Regions from separate parts of the Homo sapiens genome. Here all the other regions are linked to region 1. Evidence: fine-mapped expression QTL. A gene starts in region 1. Each other region holds a variant in brackets. All regions are shown on one strand. Distances are between the middles of the regions. Region 1 holds the start of GPR83 (G protein-coupled receptor 83). Region 2 holds the start of IZUMO1R (IZUMO1 receptor, JUNO). Region 3 overlaps HEPHL1 (hephaestin like 1).

Region 1 (5,865 bases):
ACAAAAACAAGAGGTTGGTTCACTGTAAGAGCTGCTTGTATCTTCCTGTAACCACTTAGTAAGAGCAACAGTGATTTACAGTGATTTACCATAACGCCTCTGAGAAAAGAACTACTTTTAATAACTCAGCCTTCGTGTGAGGTAAGGTGAAGGGATATTCTTGTTTCATTAAAGACTGTGACTTCGGCCGGGCACAGTGGCTCACGCCTGTAATCCCAGCACTTTGGGAGGCCGAAGCGGGTGGATCACGAGGCGGGTGGATCACGAGGTCAGGAGATCGAGACCATCCTGGCTAACACAGTGAAACCCCGTCTCTACAAAAAAATAGAAAAAATTAGCTAGGTGTGGTGGCAGGCGCCTGTAGTCCCAGCTCCTTGGGAGGCTGAGACAGGAGAATGGCGTGAACCCAGGAGGCGGAGCTTGCAGTGAGCCGACATCACGCCACTGCACTCCAGCCTGGGTGACAGAGCGAGACTCTGTCTCAAAGACTGTGACTTCAGGAGTTCAGGATAAGTTTGGGACAGTGGTGCTGGGCTAAGAGGAGGGCTTGGCAGGGCTCAGGAGGCCCAGGCCTGGCTGAGTGGAGAGCTGAATGCCTGGGGAAGAGGAAGAGGAAGTGATTCCAGACCTCATGCCTACCCTTGGATTTTCTCAGGACCGCCTCCCCCTTCAGAGCACACCAGTGCAACTTGCAACTGCCAGCAGTAGCATTTATTTGCCTGAGCCCTTGTTTTGCCTCTGGAGCCCATTTTGGCTATCCACATGGCAGGCCAGAAGTTCAGGAGCATCCTGGGAGAAGGAGCAGACCCCTGGGAGAAGCCTTCAACCAGTGACTAACAGGAGGTGGAGTACAGATACCACAGCTCTGTCACCCCTTGGCTTGGATAGCTGATGTGTACACCTTACACTGGCTTCCCAGCAGGCTTCAGCTTGTCACCCACAGTGGTAGCTGGCTTGACAAAACTCTATTGGTTGCTTTCCCTTTCTTGTCACACTTCTCCACTTCCCTATTGGTGTTTGCCTTCATCTCCCAAATGAACCCTCTCACTAGAGTATTTGTCACAGGAGATGCTTTTGGGGAAAGCTAAGAACTAAAACACCTCACCTCTTTCAGAAAGAAAGTTTCAGGCTTCTGGTGTAAATGCCCTCACACTTACAAGGTGGGCATGATGAGCAGGGAATCAAAGTGAAGACATTAGTTAGGTGGCCCAGATTACAAATATGCCGGCTAGCAAGCACCTTCTGTGGTACTTGGAAGAGAGTGCTTGGAAGGGCACTGGCTACCTTTGATTTCTTTCTCTGAGCTTGACGCTGACTATTCCTCTTCTATCCATACACTCTTTGTTGACACTGGGCACAGTCAATTGACTAGGATTCTGTTTTCTAAATGACCATCATATTCCGGCCTTGCCTCTCAAGATGATGCCAGGTCATCTTGATGGAGCAGCAAGTCTACCTAAGCTTTTTTCTTTTTGAGACGGAGTCTCGCTCTGTCGCCCAGGCTGGAGTGCAGTGGCGCGATCTCGGCTCACTGCAAGCTCCGCCTCCCGGGTTCACGCCATTCTCCTGCCTCAGCCTCCTGAGTAGCTGGGACTACAGGCGCTTGCCACCACGCCCAGCTAATTTTTTGTATTTTTAGTAGAGATGGGGTTTCACCGTGTTAGCCAGGATGGTCTCGGTCTCCTACCTCGTGGATCCGCCCGCCTCGACCTCCCAAAGTGCTGGGATTGCAGGCGTGAGCCACCGCGCCCGGCCCCCAAGCTTTCAGTGTTTACAGGCAGTCTCTTGGTTTATTTCCTGGAGCTAAAGATGTATTATTTCATCGGCCTAGCACCTTGTCCCTTCTAGGATCTGTCACATAATCCCCTATTTCAGCCATTTAATCCTGTGAGACCTGCCAGGTCCTTCAGTATAATTGAGGGTTATCTGCTAGCCATCCTTTCCTCCAGACACAGTTGCTTGAAGAGTACATGTGAAGTGGAAAACTGGAGACAAGAGTAATACCTAGGTTTGAGTCATTGTTTGGGTCCCAGCCCAAGGACATTGCTCCCCAGGGCACGTTGACACAATGTAAAGAATCTACATGGTGTTTCCTGTTGGGGGTCAGGGGTGGTTACCAGTAGTCAACCAGATATTGCATGTCTTGCACCAGAGGGCAATGCAGTGAGAGATGTATACAGGGGTCTCTGAAAACCTCACATTTAGGAAAAGAAAGCCTTTTAACCAAGGCCAAAAATGTTAAATGGCTTGCCCAAGATTTCACAGCTAGGAAGTGACAAAGCTGGGATTAAACCCTAATTACAGAGCCCATGGTCTTTACTACAGGCTTGTGGGTGGCAGAGGACCCAGTGACTGGGAGAGTTTTCACAGTGGAAGTGAAAACGGGTGAGCAGGATAGCAAGGTTTCCTGAAGAAGTAGATGGGGAAGGAAAAACAGCATGGGTCATAATATCCCTTAAAGATATAGCTTCAAGGACTTCCATGGCAGAAAAATTCAAGTTACCCAAGAGGTGAGCACACAGCTAAACTTCTCTTTTCCTTCGCTTCTTTGATGGTATCCGAACTGCTTTGAAGAGTTTCCTTGAAAAACAAAGCTCCCCAGATTGCATTCCTGGGGGCTGTCAAAGAAACTGTAATCCTTTAATAAGCCCTCCAGCACCTCTGGTATCTGGATACTCCGGGGACTTGGAGAATCCTTAACGTCTCTATTTTTTGGTTTGCCTTTTTCCTGGGACCGCCGGGACGCAGCGATCCATTTCGATATTGAAACTGTGCCAAGGCTAAGGCTTAGGTGGAAACAAATGGAATATATCCTTGTCACTGACCCGGCTTTGCCAGCATGCCCCCTCATCATCCCAAGTGCCCCTGTGGGCTTCCTCCCACCTGCCTGCCCTGCTTCCTTTACAAGAGGCTAAGCCGACACCACGCGAGTGTGTACGCGCTGGGGACTGAGCCCCCGAAGCGAAGCCCTGTCGGAGGAGTTTCAGGCGGGAGTGGGAACGGCTGGGCGTGGGGTCAGCAACGGCGCCACCCGGTAGGGTGGGGGGAGCCAGGCTTGTCAGAGCCAGAGCGCGTCACCGTCGCCGCGAGAGACGCCGCGCTGCCCAATAGGCAGAGGCGCTCCCTAGCAGCCTGGTGGGAGCAGAGATATAAAAGTGCTCCAACAAACCCGGAGCTGGCGTGCCGACCGCGGGCTGGTGGCGGGCGGCGCGGTGCTCCGCGCGTCCGGGCTCCCTGGCTCCTCGGGACGGCCTTGTATGCTGTGCGCCCCGCACCCCGGCTGCGCGCTCCGATCCCAGCGGGAGGGGACGCCCGGCCCGCAGGCTCCCAGGGGAGGGGTGGCTCCTGCAAAATGGTCCCTCACCTCTTGCTGCTCTGTCTCCTCCCCTTGGTGCGAGCCACCGAGCCCCACGAGGGCCGGGCCGACGAGCAGAGCGCGGAGGCGGCCCTGGCCGTGCCCAATGCCTCGCACTTCTTCTCTTGGAACAACTACACCTTCTCCGACTGGCAGAACTTTGTGGGCAGGAGGCGCTACGGCGCTGAGTCCCAGAACCCCACGGTGAAAGCCCTGCTCATTGTGGCTTACTCCTTCATCATTGTCTTCTCACTCTTTGGCAACGTCCTGGTCTGTCATGTCATCTTCAAGAACCAGCGAATGCACTCGGCCACCAGCCTCTTCATCGTCAACCTGGCAGTTGCCGACATAATGATCACGCTGCTCAACACCCCCTTCACTTTGGTAAGGGGCCCGCTGCCTGCCGCCCCACCTTCTGTCTTCGTCTCCCTTTCCTCTCTCAGTTCTCTGGCCTCCCTCTGCCGTTCTGCGTCTCCCTGTGGGTCCCCACTTCTCTCTCCACATCTCTCTTCCTCCTCATTTCTCCTCTCCTCTGCCTCTGTCTTCCTGTCCTAGTCTCTTTTCTCCCTCCTCTGTCATCTCGGTTCTTGTATCTCTCCTGTTTTTCTTAGTCTTTCTTTCAGTCTCTGTCTCTCTCTCTGAAGTCTTTCTGTCTCTCTTCTCTATCTCTCAGTGTCCTCATCTTTTTTTTTTTTTTTGTCTTTCAGCCTCCCTATTCATCTGTCTCTGTCTCCTCACCTGTTATCTCTTTTTCTTCTTGTCAGTCTCTCTGTGATTTTATTTTTCTATTCTCTCTCCTCTCCTCTCCTCTCCCCACCTCTCCTCTCTTCCTCTCTCCCCTGCCTCACTCTCTGATTTCTCCCCACTTTTTTCTGTCTCATCGCCTTATCAGCCAGAGCTTCTGCGGCGGTGGCATTGGGTCAATGGTTTGAGTGTCTGCAGCCAGCTGGAAATGAATGACCATTTCCTGTTTAATCTCACTGGGTCTGGGCTTGCTTGATAATTGAGCAGTAAATCAATGCCCCTGAAATGTCAGCAGAGATGATCAGGTCCCCCTCCCTCTGAATTGCAGCCTGTTCAGTGCCCAGCCGTACCCATGGGATACTGCTTTGTGCTACAACTGAAATATCAAACAATTGCTAATTGTTAATGGAACATTAAGTGCATTTTCCCAGACCACTTATTTAAAGTGCATTTCCCTTCTGTGGGTTGATAATGAGGCTGTGTTTGAGGTCTGTGTTGAGGAAGAAATGAGGGGAGGTGGGCTTGGGCCCCAGAAATCGGGCAGGCTGGGGGCATTTGCACATTGGCAGCTGATGGGATTCTTCCCCAAGCCCTGGCTACTTAGCGCTGGTGGTGTCCCGCTGTGACCGGGGAGTGTGGCTCTCATGGATGATTTGGGACTGTAAGGGCGATGACTGAGCAACCATAGTGACAGTTATACTGCATGTTTCTCTAGTGTGTTATATTTTTTCATTTTATGGAATAACTTTGTCATTTGAGTGATTACTAAAGCAATATCTATTAATCCCTCTCTGTCTGTCTCCTTGCCATCTCTCATACACAACCAGATATAACAGACAAGCAAAAAACACAGGATGAACCCCCACAAGTCCATCACCTGTGTGAACATCCTTCCAAATCTTATATTGAAAAAGTACCCTCACATTCTCTTTCTCATCCTCACTTATTAGAATATTACTCACATTTTGCAGATGAGAAAACTAGGGCACAGAGAGGTTCAATCCCTTGTCCAAAGCCACCTGGCCAGTAGTTGGCAGAGCCAGGATGAGAATTCCATCCCCTAACTCAAATCCAGAGGTCGGTCCACTAACCAGCCAGCTGGGAGTGAAGGACACTCTTGGACCATGTTTAGCTTCTGCTACTCCAAACCCTGGACTTGTTCTGATCTCCTTTCAGCCTACGTCTAACGTATTGATGGCCACTTAATATCCCCTGGGCATTACCCAAGGATGAGTGGGCTTTCAAATACTCTCCTCCTCCCTGGGTGTCTCAAAGCACAAGACAACAGCATCCCTGTCACCCGTTGGCGCCTCCCTTGGTTTCTGACCTGAGAATCTACAGTGGTACGGTTGGGCTGTGCTACCTAGGTTGGGAACTGGGAAGCCACAGAACATGGCCTTTTTTGCTGCTGCCCAGAGCCAGGATACAGGGCTGGATCTGCAGCAGACACAAGAAGGGGTAGGGAGGCCATGGACGCGAGGACAGGCTACACCTGAGAGCTGGCAATACCTGCCCCAGAGGATCTCCTGCAAGAGACAGGATGCCAAGGTCCTCAGAGCCCAGCACCCCCTCCAGTATGAGCCAAAGCAGCTTAGCCTTGAACCTGACCCATCAAGCTGCCCCAATCCAAACTTGGATTACAGTTTATAAGGTGCTGGCAGGTAGGAAAGGGAGAAGGTTGTGGGGAGGGACTTCCAACCCCTTGGCCTTACTCAGCACAGGCTCCCCCATCGGGAAAGGCATCCCTGCCTTTGCCTGATTGGCAA
Region 2 (5,865 bases), 97 kb after region 1:
CCTTGTCAGCACCACTCACCCTGACTCCAGTCCCAGCCACCACGCCAGTTGGATTTGCATGTGTAAGACATGCGACAGTCTTCCCACCACTCCTCACAGTCCTCCTGGCACAGCGGCACATTCACAACTCGCTCTCCCTGCCCACTCGGGGCCACCTGGGTGCAGTCATAGCCAGAGATTAGAACATTAATAGCAGAGATGTGAAGACTACTAATAGCTACAGTGGTATTTGTACCAGGTACCATATGTACATCATCTTCCATAAAGCCTCTAAGTGTTATTTTACAAATAATACCAATGAGGCTAAGAGATTTAATAGTTTGTCCTGGGCTATACAGCTGGTAGGGACAGAACATGAGACTGAAGCTCAGGTCTGTCAACTCCACCAAGCCTCCTGTGGTGATAGCCCCTCATCCCACTGTTGTCAGAACAGTCTCCCCCATGTGATTCTCCAGCAGGGGCCTCTGGCTCTGCTCTTGTCCATAGGGAAATAACACCTCCTGTTCCTACTAGCATCCTGGCGGCATCAGCATAAGATCGGGTGAAAGCTCTGGCTGTTAATATAATAACAGGGCATGGCACAGATCTGCTTCCTACCTCCCACCCCAGGCTTCCCACTGGCTGGATCCAGGGCCCCAGGTTTGGGGAGCACTCATAGAAGCAGATAGCCTGGATGAAGTGCTTCCGACAGCCAGGCATCAGCAGTCCACAGTGAAACAGGCTGAAGTTGTAGAGTGGGGATACATCCAGATGGGCTTCCCAGCTTGTCGTGAGGGTGCAGCAGGCATTGTCCTTCCAGGGGATGCACTGAAGGCAGAGGAAGAAACAAAAGGCCCAGGCAAAAGGGGCAAGGATCGGCAAGTGTCTAGGGAAGAAAGGTGGTGAAATGAAAATGTCCCTTAGGAGGCCTGAGCAAGTGGGATGCCTTTAGCTAGTAAGCCCCTACATAAGAGGAACCCTGATAATCTCTCAATATTTACCCAAAGGGCAGAGGCACCTGCACAATGACCCCCTGCCACAGGCTGCTACAGTCCTCTAGAAACACAACTTCTGGGCTCTCAGCTCCTGAGAGGCAGCAGAAGCCTTTTAGGGCAAAGCAGGTAGAAGAGCCCCAGAGAGACCCAGGGGAATCTGGGGTTGCATTGGGTGGGAGGGTCTCATAGGCCAAATGCCAGCTGTGTTCTTCCTCCCATATCCCTGGAAATTGCCTTTAGGAGCTTGGGGAGGGGTCACATAAGTCATATGTTGCCCCAGGACCTGTTGGCAGGAAGGCTTGTTTTCATCTGTGCCGAGTCAACAATGGATCTCTGGGATCACCAGCGGTCCCTGCTTTCCCAGTGGCTAGAGCAGCTCAGAAATGGGAACTTTGAATCGCTTGGCTCTTATGGTCTCAAAAAGGCATAGTCTCTTTCCATCTAGTTGCCTTTGCTTAACTCCTAACCCCAGGAACCAAATGATCAGGGTTGATGAGGTTCGGAGACCATCTTGGCATTTGTGTCCCTTCCCTGATCTTCCCCATCCCATACCCAGGTCTGGCCTCTGTACCTCCTCATAGAGCTTGTCTTCTGGGCTGGGCACTCTCTTGTGGTGTTTGGCATTCATGCAGATGTTGAGCAGCTCGTCCCCAGCCCAGGTGGGCATGACTGTCCACAGCTCTAGCAGGAGCGGCCACCAGCATGCCATGGCCTGCTACAGAGAGACCCATGCTGCACACTTGATGGAAATGACACCCCACTCCACCCCCTTCATCATAGCAGGCACTGGGAAAGGGGGATGGGCTTCAATCTCCCTCAAATAATTGCAACACTCTGGCTGCTCCTAGGACCTTCTTTTGGAGGCAGCATCACAGAATGTCAGGGCAGGTAGAATAATCCTTGGAGGCCTGACACAGTGCTGGAGGCCTTGCTGGCCCTGCAGAGCCAGGGGCATGCCGAGGCATGAGTCAGATAGGAGGAGCCTTCTACATCCAAAGCCTGATCCCCATCACAGGAATGAGGAGGAGGGCCCTTCCTATTTCCAACTCTGTTCTGGGTAGTAGTGGTAATGAGAGGTAGTGGAAAGAGAGACAAAACAAAGCAAAAGGCAGAGGGGCCCCAGGCCTCAAGCACCCAACCTCTTAGGACACAGGGCCCCTCACCTTCATAGCCCAGGAGCCCATGGCTCCCCCAGTCCCCCAAGTCTGGCAGGAGCCTGACCTGGACCCATCATGGTGAAACTGGAAACTTCTAGCCTACCCTGGTCTAAGAGCCTCAAACATCCTGGGGAAGAAGAGCCCAGCCCCCCTCTTCAGAGCCCAACCTCAAGTCCAAATCTAAGGCTGTTCTCTCTCCAGACAACCAGTTTCAAGCTCAGCCATGGCCTTGAATATTTTTAAAGAATCAGATCTGTTAGGTAAAAGGAGGAAAGATGCTGCCCCTTCCAGCACTCTCTTCATACTCACTTTCAAGGCAGGAGCCTTCAGGTGCTCCTGCTCCCTCCTCCCCCTGAGACTATGAGGCTGAGGGGAGTTCCATGTCCCGCCCATTTATTACCCAGTCTGATTTCTACTAGGTCCAGGTGCAGGAGGAGAACTCCACGTGGCTCTCATTAAACAGCATCTGTCTCACCCAGCTCTGCAGGCCTGTGGGTTCCGAGGAAGTTTGCTTCCTCAGAGAAACAGACCCCATCGTAGGCAAGATCCGGGGCTCTACAATAAGTTACCGGGTTCGGCTGTCAGCTCTGCTACTTACTAGCTGGCTGCCCTGGAGAAAATGACTCAAATTCTCTGTCAGTTTCTCTCTCTGTAAAGGAAGTTTTTATTATGGGATTGGAAAAATAAAGAGAAAGTTCATGAACAAAAACCTTGGCATTGTGCCTGGGATAGAGGAAGTCTTAATGGTTTTAAATTTTATTCTTTTATCCTCTCTCCACACGCCCCTCCTATGTTCTGTTCCGTAGCTCTACCTGCCCCTTCACTGTTAGCCAAGCATCAGCTCAGTCACCTGGTGGCTTTTCTGACAGTGTCCTCGCACAGCCCACAGGAACTATGGTCCCTGCTGGAGCACAGACCGAGGACACAGGATGCAGAGATGAAGTGTGGCCTTGGGGACCCAAGAATTTAAACATACAAACAAAGCCAAAGCAAACAAAACAAAGAAAGTCCCTCCATAACCCGCCAAGCAGCCTCCCTTAGCATACAGGAATCGTTGTCCTGTGAAATATTCTACAAGTGTTCTCAGCAGTGATCATATTTGCAAGACTATCCTTTTCAGCTAAGGAGAGATTGGAAACTTGG[A/G]TAGGATTCTTGGGAGAGTCCCAAAGATGATAAAAATGCTGGAAAAGGAGCATATTTCTTTGTTTTTATAATATGTCCTCTCTTTCTCTCTCTGAAAGAGAAGTAGCTGAAATCACTGAAGTTTTATTGATACAAAGGAAATGAAAACAAAACACTAAAAGCGTTTTTTTAATGGAATAAAATACATTCTGTGGTGTTCAGCTACAACTGATGTGTAAAGCATATACTAATGTTGGAAAATGACATTCTCCACACCTGGGTAATCACAGCCACTGAATGCTGAGCACAAACAAGGAGCCAGGCACTGGCCTGGTACTGTCTACAGGATCTGAGGTCTCAAAAAGACCTCCAATATGAACACCCTCCTTGTTTTAGCTGTGGGGAACTGAGGCTCAGCGGTGAGTAGCAGAGCTGGGATATAATTTCAGGTATTCTCGACTCCCTATCTAATGCTTAAGGACCAGGTGAGGGAGAAACCTCCGGGACTAAAAGAGTAGATACTGCCTGGGTGCCTGGGTCTCAAGTGAGGTCTGCTTTTTTTTTTTTTTTAACGTTAAATGCCATAATGAGGTTGTGCATGTATTGGGAGGCGTGTGTTGGCTTTATTCTAGAACAGTGACAGTTATTAACCCAGTCTCCCATGTCCCCACGTTAAGCAGAGCCTGGAGTCTCCTCCTTAGGGTCAGATACCAAATGGTAATAGCATCTCTATAGCCTGACAGAGGGAGAAGCAGGCTGTCATGTTCTGTTCAGTTCCTCATGAATATTCAGGAAGCTCCAAGCATTGATAAGGTAAGAGATTTGGGGTTTAAGGTTCAGTTTAAAATGGCTGTGGAGGTGCCAGAGCCGAGAATCCAGACATGAATCACAAGAGTAATTATTGAAATGGAAATAGGTCCTCTGACAACTGTCCTTCATAGGGTGTGAAGAAGGACGAAGGGCGGCTTGCTTGATAACAGTCTCCAGGACAAAGCTGTAGGAAATGAGCTAAAATTGCAGCCAGCGCATATGCAGGTGGAGGGAGGGAGGGAGGGAGGGAGGAAGGAATTACCCAGTGAGTGAGGCTGCCTTTCAGAGAACCATCAGGCCGGCCAGCATCTGCTCTCGGGAGATGCAGCTTGAGACCCTTGAGCAAAGCTCATTTTTGCCTTATTGTGACTGAGCCTTCCATAGCAATCTGTTTTCTGACTGAAAGCAGATAAGTCAAAGCTGACTGTAGATGAAGCAATTTGAAGTGGCTGATTCAAGACAATTTTTATTCTAAAACACACACACACACAACAAAACCAACACTTGCGTTTCCAAAAGAAGAGGTACAGCAGCCTTCAGCGGGCTCTGAGGGAGGACAAGGAGGGCAGGGCAGTAGGTGAAGCAACCCAGCCTTGGCTCTGGTTTGGGGCCACTGGAGATGCTGGGCAGTGATGACTTCCTTCCCCTCTCCCATCCTGAGGTCACTCCCCCACTGAATTTGAGAACAGACTACGAAAGTGAAGAGCTAGAGCCAGGAGTCTCCTGGTGAGAATCTGATGTCAGAGGCCAGCCGAAGGGGACTTCAGTGATTCAGAGTTCTTACTGGGTCTCATGAATTCTTCTCACCCCAAACCTGATTGACCATCCTCATGTAAACTCTTAATTGGTTTCTGTCTAGGGAGGTAAATAGGGATATTAATTTATTCTTCACTCTATGTCTATCCAATCGCCGAAGCTGTTGATTTAACTTTCTAAATATCTCTTGAATTCACATCCCTTACTTACTGTCTGGACCATGATCGGCTCTTGCCTCAGTTACTGCAACAACCTCCTAACTAGCTCTCCCACCCTTTTCCAGAGCTTTAATCAAGTAGCAGCCATAATGATCTAATTTCTCAGAATTTTTTTAAATTTGTATAAATTTAAGGGTATAAGTGCAGTTTGGTTACATGGATATATTGCACAGTGGTGAAGTCTGTGCTTTGTACATTGTACTCATTATGTAATTTCTTATACCTCACCCCCTCCCGCCCTTCTGAGTCTCCAACATCTATTATTCCATGCTCTATGTCCATGTGTACACATTATTTAGCTTCCACTTTTAAGTGAGAAAATGCAGTATTTGACTTTTTGTTTGAGTTGTTTTACTTAAGATAGTGGCTTCAGTTCCATCCATGTTACTGCAAAAGATACGATTTCATTCTTTTATATGGATGAATAGTGTATCATTGTATATATTTTACCACATTTACTTTATCCATTCATCTGTTAATGAACACTTAGGTTGATTCCAAATCTTTACTATTGTGAATAGTGCTGTAATAAACATAAGAATGCAGGTATATTTTTCATATAATTATTTCGTTTCTTTTATCAGTATTTTAATTATGAAAGTTTTCAAACATAAAGTTGAGATAATTTTATAGTGAACTCTCTCTCATATGCCCACCACTTAGATTTCACCATTACCATTTTATTATATTTTCTTTATTATATATTTAGCCAACCATCCTTCTCTCTATTCAGGTATCAGTCTTATTATTTTTTATGTATTTCAAAGTAAATTGCAGATATCAGTAAACTGATGTCTTCCTAAGTAATTCAAACATGCATATCATTAA
Region 3 (5,865 bases), 300 kb after region 1:
TTAGCAATGGGTTTAAATTCTGCTTCCTTCATTTATTAGAGGGGCCTTGGGTAAGTGATGTAATCTGTCTGAGTTTCAGTTTCCTCATCTGTAACATCAGTTTAGTAATAACTTTTATGTGGGATTATAGTAAGGGTTGAATAAGATAATGTATCTAAAAGTGTTTACTTCAGTGCACTGATACACCATAAGTACTTGGTAAATGCTTTTTTACTACTGAGAAATCATCTCCAGGAAAAGCCATATCCACATGATATGGTGACTTTCAGTTGTAATCCCCCTGTGTATAACCTTTGATAAGTCTGAAATTATTCATTATCTGGTAAATGGATGACAATAATAATGAAGATCCAATGAAATAATGTGTGTAAAAGGAATCTGAAAGAGTAGAGGGAAATAAAATCATTTATGTATTAATTTATGATTAATATAGTGACTTCACAAATGCACATCTAACTCTGTTTCTCAATATTTGTTTACCCAAGGAGACAAGCACTCTTCAGCCCCTCTGGTGTGTGCATTTCTGTTGGAAGCAACCAGGCTGGGTGCCAATGGAGATGAGCCCACACCTGGCTCAGAGGGCCTGTGGCAGCATGACTTGTGCACTGCTTCATGGTCAGTAGACTCCCATTTCAGAAGTGCCTGATCCCTATGGCTCTCTCTTGGGTATCTGGTGCATTCTACATTCACAGGGAGATACACTGACAGTTGGTGGTCTGGCCACACATATCAATTCCTTGCTGATTCAAGCCATGGTTTTAATTGCTTTTCTGAGAAAGGTATATATAAATCTAAAATTTGTTGGACGGTTATTATTTTCAATTTTCTCTCAATTTCTTAAAATATTCTTAGGGGGTAGTTCCAAGATGGATGAATAGGAACAGCTCCAGTCTACAGCTCCCAGTGTGAGCGACGCAGAAGACAGGTGATTTCTGCATTTCCAACTGAGGTACCGGGTTCATCTCACTGCGGCTTGTCAGACAGTGGGGGCAGGACAGTGGGTGCAGCCCACCGAGCGTGAGCCGAAGCAGGGAGAGGCATCGCCTTACCTGGGAAGCACAAGGGGTCAGGGAATTCCCTTTCCGACCAAGGGAAGCTGTGACAGATGGCACCTGGAAAATCGGGTCACTCCTACCCTAATACTGCGCTTTTCCAATGGTCTTAGCAAACGGCACACCAGGAGATTATAGCCGGTGCCTGGCTCAGATGGACCCACACCCAAGGAGCCTCACTCATTGCTAGCACAGCAGTCTGAGATCAAACTGCAAGGTGGCAGTGAGGCTGGGGGAGGGGCGCCCACCATTGCTAAGGCTTGAGTAGGTAAACAAAGCGGCTGGGAAGCTCGAACTGGGTGGAGCCCACCGCAGCTCGAGGAGGCCTGCCTGCCTCTGTAGACTCCACCCCTGGGGGCAAGGCATAGCCGAACAAAAGGCAGCAGAAACCTCTGCAGACGTAAATGTCCCTGTCTGACAGCTTTGAAGAGAGTAGTGGTTCTCCCAGCACAGAGTTTGAGATCTGAGAATGGTCAGACTGCCTCCTCAAGTGGGTCCCTGACACCCAAGTAGCCTAACTGGGAGTCACCCTCCAGTAGGGGCAGACTGACACCTCACACGGCCAGGCACCCCTCTGAGATGAAGCTTCCAGAAGAAGGATCAGGCAGCAACATTTGCTGTTCAGAAATATTCGCTGTTCTGCAGCCTCCGCTGCTGATATCCAGGCAAACAGGGTCCAGAGTGGACCTCCAGCAAACTCCAACAGACCTGCAGCTGAGGGCCCTGACTGTTAGAAGGAAAACTAACAAACAGAGAGCAAATCCACACCAAAACCCCATCTGTACATCACCATCATCAAAGACCAAAGGTAGATAAAACCACAAAGATGGGGAAAAAACAGAGCAGAAAAGCTGAAAATTCTAAAAATCAGAGTGCCTCTCCCCCACCAAAGGAACGCAGCTCCTAGCCAGCAACAGAACAAAGCTGGATGGAGAATGACTTTGACGAGTTGAGAGAAGAAGGCTTCAGACGATCAGACTTCTCCAAGCTAAAGGAGGATGTTCGAACCCATCGCAAAGAAGCTAAAAACCTTGAAAAAAGATTAGATGAATGGCTAACTAGAATAACCAGTGTAGAGAAGTCCTTAAATGACCTGATAGAGCTGAAAACCATGGCACGAGAACTACATAATGAATGCACAAGCTTCAGTAGCCGATTCGATCAACTGGAAGAAAGGGTATCAGTGATTGAAGATCAAATGAATGAAATGAAGTGAGAAGAGAAGTTTAGAGAAAAAAGAGTAAAAAGAAACGAACAAAGCCTCCAAGAAATATAGGACTATGTGAAAAGACCAAATCTGCGTCTGACTGGTGTACCTGAAAGTGACGAGGAGAATGGAATCAAGTTGGAAAACACTCTGCAGGATATTATCCAGGAGAACTTCCCCAACCTAGCAAGGCAGGCCAACATTCAGATTCAGGAAATACAGAGAATGCCACAAAGATACTCCTCGAGAAGAGCAACTACAAGACACATAATTGTCAGATTCACCAAAGCTGAAATGAAGGAAAAAATGTTATGGGCAGCCAGAGAGAAAGGTCGGGTTACCCACAAAGGGAAGCCCATCAGACTAACAGCGGATCTCTCAGCAGAAACTCTACAAGCCAGAAGAGAGTGGGGGCCAATATTCAACATACTTAAAGAAAAGAATTTTCAACTCAGAATTTCATATCCAGCCAAACTAAGCTTCATAAGTGGAGAAATAAAATCCTTTACAGACAAGCAAATGCTGAGAGATTTTGTCACCACCAGGCCTGCATTACAAGAGCTCCTGAAGGAAGCACTAAACATGGAAAGGAACAATCAGTACCAGCCACTGCAAAAACATGCCAAATTGTAAAGATCATCGATGCTAGGAAGAAACTGCATCAACTAATGAGTGAAATAACCAGCTAACATCATAATGACAGGATCAAATTCACACATAACAATATTAACCTTAAATGTAAATGGGTGAAATGTTCCAATTAAAAGACAAAGACTGGCAAATTGGATAAAGAGTCAAGACCCATC[A/G]GTGTGCTGTATTCAGGAGGCCCATCTCACGTGCAGAGACACACACAGGCTCAGAATAAAGGGATGAAGGAAGATCTACTAAGCAAATGGAAAACAAAAAGGCAGGGGTTGCAATCCTAGTCTCTGATAAAACAGACTTTAAACCAACAAAGGTCAGAAGAGACAAAGAAGGCCATTACATACTGGTAAAGGGATCAATTCAACAAGAAGAGCTAACTAACCTAAATATATATACACCCAATACAGGAGCACCCAGATTCATAAAGCAAGTCCTTAGAGACCTACAAAGAGATTTAGACTCCCACACAATAATAATGGGAGACTTTAACACCCCACTGTCAACATTAGACAGATCAATGAGACAGAAAGTTAACAAGGATATCCAGGAATTGAACTCAGCTCTGCACCAAGCAGAGCTGATAGACACCTACAGAACTCTCTACCCCAAATCAGCAGAATAAACATTCTTCTCAGCACCACATCGCACTTATTCCAAAACTGACCACATAGTTGGAAGTAAAGCACTACTGAGCAAATGTAAAAGAACAGAAATTATAACAAACTGTCTCTCAGACCACAGTGCAATCAAACTAGAACTCAGGATTAAGGAACTCACTCAAAATCACTCAACTGCATGGAAACTGAACAACCTGCTCCTGAATGACTACTGGGTACATAACAAAATGAAGGCAGAAATCGATGTTCTTTGAAACCAATGAGAACAAAGACACAACATACCAGAATCTCTGGGACACATTTAAAGCAGTGTGTAGAGGGAAATTTATAGCACTAAATGCCCACAAGAGAAAGCAGGAAAGATCTAAAATTGACACACTAACAGCACAATTAAAATAACAAGATAAGCAAGAGCAAACACATTCAAAAGCTAGCAGAAGGCAAGAAATAACTAAGATCAGAGCAGAACTGAAGGAGAGAGAGACACAAAAAACCCTTCAAAAAATCAATGAATCCAGGAGCTGGTTTTTTGAAAAGATCAACAAAATTGACAGACTGCCAGCAAGACTATCAAAGAAGAAGAGAGAGAAGAATCAAATAGGCGCAATAAAAAATGATAAAGGGGATATCATCACTGATCCCACAGAAATACAAACTACCATCAGAGAATACTATAAACACCTCTATGCAAATAAACTAGAAAATCTAGAAGAAATGGATAAATTCCTCGACACATACACCCTCCCAAGACTAAACCAGGAAGAAGTTGAATTACTGAATAGACCAATAACGTGTTCTGAAATTGAGGCAATAATTAATAGCCTACCAAACAAAAAAAGTCCAGGACCAGACATATTTACAGCCGAATTCTACCAGAGGTACAAGGAGGAGCTGGTACCATTCCTTCTGAAACTATTCCAATCAATAGAAAAAGAGGGAATCCTCCCTAACTCATTTTATGAGGCCAGCATCATCCTGATACCAAAGCCTGGCAGACACAACCAAAAAAGAGACTTTTAGACCAATATCCCTAATGAACATTGATGCAAAAATCCTCAATAAAATACTGGCAAACGAATCCAGCAGCACATCAAAAAGTTTATCCACCATGATCAAGTGGGCTTCATCCCTGGGATGCAAGACTGGTTCAACATAATGCAAATCAATAAACGTAATCCATCACATAAACAGAACCAAAGACAAAAACCACGTGATTATCTCAATAGCTGCAGAACAGACCTTAGAAAAAATTCAACAGCGCTTCATGCTAAAAACTCTCAATAAATTAGGTATTCATGGGATGTATCTCAAAATAATAAGAGCTATCTATGACAAACCGACAGCCAATATCATACTGAATGGGCAAAAACTGGAAGCATTCCCTTTGAAAACTGGCACAAGACAGGGATGCCCTCTCTCACCACTTCTGTTCAACATAGTGTTGGAAGTTCTGGCCAGGTCAATTAGGCAGGAGAAAGAAATAAAGGGTATTCAATTAGGAATAGAGGAAGTCAAATTGTCCCTGTTTGCAGATGACATGGTTGTATATTTAGAAAACCCCATTGTCTCAGCCCAAAATCTCCTTAAGCTGATAAGCAACTTCAGCAAAGTCTCAGGATACAAAATCAATGTGCAAAAATCACAAGCATTCTTATACACCAATAACAGACAAACAGAGAGCTAAATCATGAACTCCCATTCACAATTGCTTCAAAGACAATAAAATACCTAGGAATCCAACTTACAAGGGATGTGAAGGACCTCTTCAAGGAGAACTACAAACCACTGCTCAACAAAATAAAAGAGGACACAAACAAACAGAAGAATATTCCATGCTCATGGATAGGAAGAATCAATATCATGAAAATGGCCATACTGCCATTTCCCAATGGCCATACTGCCATTGCCCAAGGTAATTTATAGATTCAATGCCATCCCCATCAAGCTACCAATGACTTTCTTCACAGAATTGGAAAAAACTACTTTAAAGTTCATATGGAACCAAAAAAGAGCCCACATTGCCAAGTCAATCCTAAGCCAAAAGAACTAAGCTGGAGGCATCATGCTACCTGACTTCAAACTGTACTACAAGGCTGTAGTAGCCAAAACAGCATGGTACTGGTACCAAAACAAAGATATAGACCAATGGAACAGAACAGAGCCCTCAGAAATAATACCACACATCTACAACCATCTGATCTTTGACAAACCTGACAAAAACAAGAAATGAGGAAAGATTCCCTATTTAATAAATGGTGCTGGGAAAACTGGCTAGCCATATGTAGAAAGCTGAAACTGGATCCCTTCCTTACACCTTATACAAAAATTAATTCAAGATTGATTA

What was found. PIP is the estimated chance that this variant, and not a neighbour inherited with it, causes the effect. A credible set is the group of variants that fine-mapping cannot tell apart.
Region 2: its variant is the best candidate, but not a certain one, in a credible set for the expression of GPR83 in thyroid (GTEx, PIP 0.60).
Region 3: its variant is the best candidate, but not a certain one, in a credible set for the expression of GPR83 in skeletal muscle (GTEx, PIP 0.73).

What each region holds. Positions count from the first base shown.
Region 1 is chr11:94,398,735-94,404,599 of GRCh38, reverse strand. It overlaps GPR83 (G protein-coupled receptor 83), which reads left to right and starts at 3,181. Exons shown (of 4, transcript NM_016540.4): 1 at 3,181-3,739. The coding sequence starts at 3,353.
Region 2 is chr11:94,301,455-94,307,319 of GRCh38, reverse strand. IZUMO1R (IZUMO1 receptor, JUNO) reads right to left here and starts at 2,740. Exons shown (of 5, transcript NM_001199206.4): 1 at 2,441-2,740; 2 at 1,546-1,689; 3 at 598-807; 4 at 20-155. The coding sequence starts at 1,683. The variant A/G (reference allele first, on the strand shown) is at 3,275.
Region 3 is chr11:94,095,147-94,101,011 of GRCh38, reverse strand. The region is part of intron 13 of HEPHL1 (hephaestin like 1); the gene reads right to left. Among named protein-coding and RNA genes, the nearest start is that of PANX1, 31 kb to the left of the region's middle. The variant A/G (reference allele first, on the strand shown) is at 3,066.